Linked DNA regions of Homo sapiens. Changing the gene in region 1 together with any one later gene gives a genetic interaction. Each region holds a gene or a part of one and is shown in the gene's direction. Other genes may lie near its edges.

Region 1 (3,500 bases):
TTTTAAAAATGCCCTTTTAATTTACTATTAAAAGAATATTCCTAGCAGAAGTAGTCTTGGATGCTAAATTCTATTTTAAGAATAACTAAAATTAGAATTCTGTTCTTTTTATAACACCTGTTACACACACACCCCTACCTAGTGTGTCGGAATCAGTTTGTATGGGCTCACCAAAGCCTACTGTTCAATTTTCAGGAGTTTTGTAAGCCATTTGATGTCAGACAAGTGGCCTGAAGTTTGTTATGGTGGTGGTATTTACACCATGAAAATTGGCATGTTATGGTGGTAGTATTTACACCATGAAAACTGCTACAAATAGAAATCTTTTTCTTCTTCTCTTGGAGAGCCACTTGTTGAACACTTACCAGCTCACCTGTGCTTGAAAGTATTTCTTCAAATAAAATGAAAGCTGGTTAGCTTTGAAAATTTTTTGTATAAAAGTTTACACGGGAAAAAAATAAACTAATTTTTTTTTCCACCTGTGTTTTCAGGGATACGAAAAGACCGAAGAGGAGGGAGAATGTTGAAACACAAGCGCCAGAGAGATGATGGGGAGGGCAGGGGTGAAGTGGGGTCTGCTGGAGACATGAGAGCTGCCAACCTTTGGCCAAGCCCGCTCATGATCAAACGCTCTAAGAAGAACAGCCTGGCCTTGTCCCTGACGGCCGACCAGATGGTCAGTGCCTTGTTGGATGCTGAGCCCCCGATACTCTATTCCGAGTATGATCCTACCAGACCCTTCAGTGAAGCTTCGATGATGGGCTTACTGACCAACCTGGCAGACAGGGAGCTGGTTCACATGATCAACTGGGCGAAGAGGGTGCCAGGTAAGAATGCGAAGCGCAGCTTTTAAGAGTCAATAGCTTTTCAAGAACTTGTTGTGATGTCATGGGAGAAATAGTGGGGGAAAAAGAAGCAATAACATGTTATGTAATTGGTTTCAAGGTTACAGGAGATGTGTTCATTTTCAGTATCAATACACTGTAATTTTCCAGGAGATTAGGAAATAATATTTTTAAATCAGAATCTAGAAGACTGAAATTCTTAAATTGACATAATTTATTTTTAACCCATCTCATTTACCAAAAAGATTTAGGGTGGACACTACATGGTAAAACTATTTAATAGTGTATGTTCACAGTAGCAGAAACTTTTAACACTAAATGAACTACAAAAGTTTGTAATATTAATGACCTTTGTTGAAAACATCTCAATTATTAATCAAACGATTTTATCTTAAAAAGATTTTTAAGATTCGGTGTGGTGGCTCGTGCCTGTAATCCTAGCACTTTTTGGGGCTGAGGTGGGAGGATTGCTTGAGCCCAGGAGCTTGAGGCCATCCGGGGCAACGTGGCGAAACCCTGTCTCTACAACAAATTTTTAAAAATTAGCTGGATGCAGTGGCACACACCTGTGGTCCCAGTTATGGGGGAGGCCGAGGTGAGAGGATGGCTTGAGTCCAGGAGGTCAAAGCTACAGTGAACCATGTTTGTGTGGAGTGCCACTGCACTCCAGCCCAGGTGACAGAGCAAGACCGTGTCATAAAAAATAAACCACACAAAAAAAGAGAAAGATCTTTATGGATTAAAAAGATAATAATAAGTGTATTTACTGAATGCCAATTATTTATCCAACCTGGTGTATGCTTAGTGTTTTAGGAGAAAGAGAAAGGCAATGGAAAAATAAATTAAGGTATCATCCCTGAAAGAAACTTTTAGAAAGACACAGTGGCTGAAGTGATACCTTGTTCCTTCAGTTGATTCTCTCAGAACTGGTGTTCTGGTAAAATTGGACTGTTACTCCTGTTATTCAGGGAGAAGAACTCAAGTTTGTATGGCAACAAGACTAGAAAATGACTTTCTCCCTGCCCCAGTGTATTCGTTCAGGAGCTAATGTAGATAAACCGAGGCAAGAAGAAGCTAAATTTTTTTTCTGGGCTTATAGGTTAAATGAGTGATAGATTTAGTTGGAGGTTTTCTCATTTGGTTTCTTTTAATAGATGAAATTAATTGTTTCCTATGAAGCATGAAATGTTTTATATGAAACTAAAAAAATGTGGAGTTTGTACTTGCATTTCAAGGGTCACTGCTCTGTTATAGGCCAAGTGAACTTATGTCTGGCCTTAGAGAATCTTACATGTATTTGCATCTATCAGTATATAAACATGTGGGCCGTAGAATAAGGAGCCAGCAGTACCAGAACCCAGCCTTGTTAGAGGCCACCATTTTGGTGGTTGAGTGGTTATTAGTTTACATGGAAGCATGGAGAATAATAGGCAAATGTAGGTTTTCAGTGTCAGTCGAACTGGCAAACAAAAATTTCTGGTCATCTTCAGAATGAAAAGTTTTCTTGAGTACCTACATATTTTAGCATTTTCATATGAAGCAGATACATTATAAGTTAATTGTTGGAATCTAATTGTAATATGGCTGTAAGTTTTTTCTTTATATTTGTTATTGCCTTGTTCTTATATTATAGGGAAAGAGAAACAAACAAACAAGCAAAGAAACTAATGGTCATATATTTGAGAGCCAACTCTTGGTTGCTGTTCAGTTTTATTTTCCTGTAAACATATATTTTCCCTTATGAAATCTTGGGAATATTAGCTCTGGAGCACTGCTGAACTCAAGTACAGACATTTTCATGTGTATCAGTAGATTCCCATCATGACATTTTTATAATAATGTTGAAGAGCATTTTAAACAACTGGAATTAAGCTCAAATACATTACCAGTGGTTGAAGAATTCACATCAATAATCTTCTGAATTTAGGAATAAAATGGAGAAGTCAAGGAAAGGAAAATATTATACACAGGCTAGCAATAGTTAAAATACAATTATTAAAGCCAGAGCTAGACAAAATTATGGCAATGAGATGTGTAACAAAACCACTCTGTAACTTCATCATGTTCGTTTAAAAGACCTGAATGATTCCAAAATCCTTAGACCAATAAACTATGTCTTCTTACTTGATAATTAAAAAAAAGAATTATAAAGGCAAAAATGAAATTATATGTATGTGTGTTTGTGTGTGTTCCATGGGAATACAGCTGTTGTAAATCAAAGGCCTACTTGCCTGACCAAGCAGAATAAAAATAGTCATTGATTTTAAAGAGACTAAAAGTGAGGGAAGAAAAAAGTCTTCTGCAAAAGCTCTACAGATGGTTGTCAAACTTTTCAGAAAAATAGACAAAGCAACATTTTGAAAAGGATTTATATCTTTTATATATTCAAATACCATCTGTTATTTAAAAAACATAGCCCACACTGAATATCTGATATAGACAATATAACGTTTATGAGATAATAGTTTGAGAATGACAATAATAATAGTAAGTTTTAAAAGAGGAAATAAGCCGGGCACAGTGGCTCATGCCTGTAATCCCAGCACTTTGGGAGGCCGAGGCGGGTGGATCACCTGAGGTCAGGAGTTCAAGACCAGCCTGGCCAACATGACAAAACCCTGTCTCTACAAAACAGTACAAAAATTAGCCAGGCTT
Region 2 (4,120 bases), on another chromosome or scaffold:
ACTGACTAGGTCACCCAAGAAAAGATAGTACCTTTGTTAGGCTAGCATGCATTTTCCTCAGGGCCTAATTTCTCACTGAAGAAGAAAAGATTTCTCCTGTTGTCCATTTCTTCATGCAGCTCTTCAACAGCTGTTTCTCGAATGCCAATCAAAGCCACTGTTCTAGGGTCTGGGGCCACCTCAAGGCACTAGGAGATGAGGACTTCTGCTCCCATGCGCCCTCCCGTCTGCTGCAGGGAGGAGTGCAATGAATAAATAACCAACATAATGTGTCAGTCACTTGTTTTATCCACCAGGAGGTAATAAGAGCTATGAAAGAGAAAGCTCCGAGCAGGGGAGGGGAGTGAGGCATGGTACAGGAGAGCAGGAGGCTGTCCTCTAAAATACAGGAGTCCAGGGGACCAACTGGGAAGGTGTGGGAGGGGGAGGGAGGGAGCCCCATAGACACAGGGGAGTGAACCACGTTCACTTTGTCAGTTTTTGATGGCAGCTCGTATATACTATTTTTTTCTCCCTCCTGCCCCCAGCCCCTCCCAGAAGGAGACTTAATCTGTCGCTCAGGCTGGAGTGCAGTAGGGTGATCTCGACTCACTGCAACCTCCGCCTCCCAGGTTCAAGTGATTCTCCTGACTTAACCTCCAGAGTAGCTAGGATTACAGGCACCCGCCACCATGCCTGGCTAATTTTTGTATTTTTTTTTTTTGTAGAGACGGGGTTTCGCCATGTTGGCCAGGCTAGTCTCAAACTCCTGACTTTAAGTGATCCGCCTGCTTTGGCCTCCCAAAGTGTTGGGATTACAGGCGTGAGCCACTGCGCCAGGCCTACAATTTCATTATTAAAACAATTCCACTGTAAAAGAATTAGCTTAGGCCTAGACGGAATGGGCTTCATGAGCTCCTTCCCTTCCCCCTGCAAGGTCACGGTGGCCACCCCGTGAGCCACTGTTGTCACGGCCAAGCCTTTTTCCGGCCATCTCTCACTATGAATCACTTCTGCAGTGAGTACAGTATTTACCCTGGCGGGAGGGCCTCTCAGATATGAGTAGGACCTGGATTAAGGTCAGGTTGGAGGAGACTCCCATGGGAAAGAGGGACTTTCTGAATCTCAGATCCCTCAGCCAAGATGACCTCACCACATGTCGTCTCTGTCTATCAGCAAATCCTTCCATGTAGCTTGACCATGTCTAGGAAACACCTTTGATAAAAATCAGTGGAGATTATTGTCTCAGAGGATCCCCGGGCCTCCTTAGGCAAATGTTATCTAACGCTCTTTAAGCAAACAGAGCCTGCCCTATAAAATCCGGGGCTCGGGCGGCCTCTCATCCCTGACTCGGGGTCGCCTTTGGAGCAGAGAGGAGGCAATGGCCACCATGGAGAACAAGGTGATCTGCGCCCTGGTCCTGGTGTCCATGCTGGCCCTCGGCACCCTGGCCGAGGCCCAGACAGGTAAGGCGTGCTTCTTCCTGCTCTGTGGGGCCACAGCCAGCTCTGGCAGCCTCCGCCAGGAGCCACTGTTTTACATACATATTTTTGAGCACCTGTTTTGTGCCAGGTGCTGTTCTAGGCCCTTAAAAGTATATCCAATTTACAGGATCGGCAAAAGCAGGTGGAGAGTAACTCAGGGTGGCAGGGCCCCCGGAGACCTTCGAGAAGTGCGACGAGGAGGGGGCTGCCTTCAGTCGGGGCTGTTTTCCTGTGTTAGGAAGACTATACAATCCTCCCAAGTGTCATGTTTCAAAGAGGAAGTGTTGGCGTGGGGTCTCAGAATAGTGCTTTTGACTGTTCATGCCAACATCTCCCCCAGGGGCAGACCCTCCCAAGGCCCATCCAGATAGGCCCAAATGCCGGTCCCAGTGATGGCCACCTGGGAGACCCTCTCCCACAGGCCCGAATGCCCGTCCCAGTGGTGGCCAACTGGGAGACCCTCTCCTACAGGTTCCTGGGCTCCCCTGGGATCCATGCTCTGGGAGTCAAAGCCACCTCTCTCATGAGTGCGTGGCTGGCAACCCATATTCCCTGGTGTTGTCAAGTGGATCGGTTGCCCTGGGTCCTTCTAGGGAGTGGAGGAGGAGGCCATTCTTGCTTCCTTGGGAAGTGTTTGCATCTCAACTCCTTTACCTGCAGAATGGATCAACGGTCTGCCCTAGGGCTGTCAGGAAATGCTGTGTGGCAGCATCTGCGACTTGCACTTTGCCAGCTGTGGGGAGCTGAATAACTTATTTGCCGTTATTAGGTACAGTTTCAAGGTGGGGGCAGGAGAAAGGGCTTTCTACGTTTCCAAAGCAAGGGTTTCCAGAGAGGCCTGAAGAGGGAGCGCCCAGTGGTGCTGTCCGTGCCCCCACTGCCCTCCAGCCACCTCTTGATCTCTGCTGTGGGGTACCGGGCCTGAGGGGTGGGCTTGGGCAGCGTAGAAGAGCAGCCAGCATTGGGCTGCAGTGGGAAGACCCCCAAGCCCATGGCAGGGAGCGGGGGAGCTTTGGAACCCGAGAGAGGAAGTGGCCTCGGTGTACAGAACGAACTGGGTGGGTCCCCGTGCTGGCCACCCCCAGGCCCATCTGCCTGCGCCCTTGCCCCCACCCCAGCCCCCAGCTCTGCCCCCTGTGCTGTGGGATCACAGAGGCCGTGGCAAACTCCCCTCCCCACCCCACACACCCTCTGGCTCAAGGCTCAGAGCGTCTTTGCGGGTCACTCAGGTCCATGATCCTGTTACAACTGAAATCTAGAAAATTGTGATTACAGTTTAGTGCATTCGTGTGTGGAAACCATTTCCATTTATTTCCATCATGCGACAAAGACAAAGCGGGTGGGCAAGACAGAGTCTGCCGGAGGCAGAGCACCGGGGCTGGAAATCTTCCTCCCTGAGGAGGAAACCCCCCCGACCCCCAGGATGATGATCCTCCCTCACCACGGGGCCTCTCTTGACCCCCACAGTGTCCCGGGGGTGGGCGATGATCACCTTCACGTCGCGATGGATCCAGACCCCAGGAGGGCAAGGTTCCCATGGAAGCTGCTGGGCAGCGGGAGCTGAACACGGATCCTTCCCAGCAAGCCAGGAACACTTTCTCCAAAGACATCTCGAGGCAGTCCCTGATAGCAAAGCAGACAAGAGAACAGCCCCTCTCGGCCTCCCCTGGGGCGCCCTCACCTGAGCCAGTGTGGCCAGACTGAGTTCCTCCCCTCCTATGCCCCAAGGCAGGGACAGGGACCGGAGGGTGCTCTGGGCTCCTCTTTCACCCCCTGCTGCAGGCTGTCAACCACCAGATCCTAATAGGTTGCTTTCTGAGACCTTTGATTCCGCGGAGCTCAGAGCCTGAAGCTCTGGTGTTAGAACCTCTTGCATAAGATCCTGCGGCAGCCCCCAGCCAGCCCCATCTGTCCACGTGTCTTCCTCCTCTAGATCCCTTTCCTCACTGCCCTGCTTCAAGCTGTTTCACAGCTTGTACCCTCTGTCGGCTCCTCCTAGACCACCCCACCCGGTCCTCTCACCTTACCTGCAATGGGTTTCCACCTCCTGAACACACCTGGGTCTCTGGAATGGCCTTTGCCCATGCGGCTCCATCTTCACCTGGTGAACCTCCTCCTGCAGGGAGCCCCCCTGCTTTGTTCAACCTGCTTGTCATTGGCCTCTCCGGGGAGTGCCCTACCCCCGTGGTTACCCTGGGCACCCTGGGACGATGGCCTTGCGTTGTCTCGCACATGTTCTTGCCTTTCTCCTCCATCAGATCCTTAGACTCTTTTTTTTTTTTTTTTGAGATGGAGTCTTGCTCTGTCACTCAGGCTGGAGTGCAATGGTGCGATCTTGGCTCACTACAACCTCTGCCTCCTGGGTTCAAGTGATTCTCCTGCCTCAGCCTCCCAAGTAGCTGGGATTACAGACGTGTGCCACAATGCCCGCCTAATTTTTTGTATTTTTAGTAGAGATGGGGCTTCACCATTTTGGTCAGGCTGGTCTTGAACTCCTGACCTCAAGTGATTCACCTCCTTCAGCCTCCCAAAGTGCTGGGATTACAGGCATGAGCCTGGGCCCAGATATTTAGACTCTTATTAATGACTTCTCTGGTTTTAATTTCTGGGTCTCTCTCACCTGGCACAGTGCCTGGCTTTTGCCATGCTAGCTCCCA

What was found.
Region 2: of ESR1 (region 1) and TFF1, changing one enhances a phenotype caused by changing the other (phenotypic enhancement), as found in Homo sapiens cells (one study listed by BioGRID).

The regions. Positions count from the first base shown.
Region 1 is NC_000006.12:151,943,682-151,947,181, forward strand, and holds part of ESR1 (estrogen receptor), read left to right. Parts: intron 1-491; coding exon 492-827; intron 828-3,500.
Region 2 is NC_000021.9:42,363,736-42,367,855, reverse strand, and holds the start of TFF1 (trefoil factor 1 precursor), read left to right. Parts: upstream 1-1,320; 5' UTR 1,321-1,360; coding exon 1,361-1,445; intron 1,446-2,743; exon of another isoform or gene 2,744-4,120. UniProt on the Homo sapiens protein: Stabilizer of the mucous gel overlying the gastrointestinal mucosa that provides a physical barrier against various noxious agents. May inhibit the growth of calcium oxalate crystals in urine.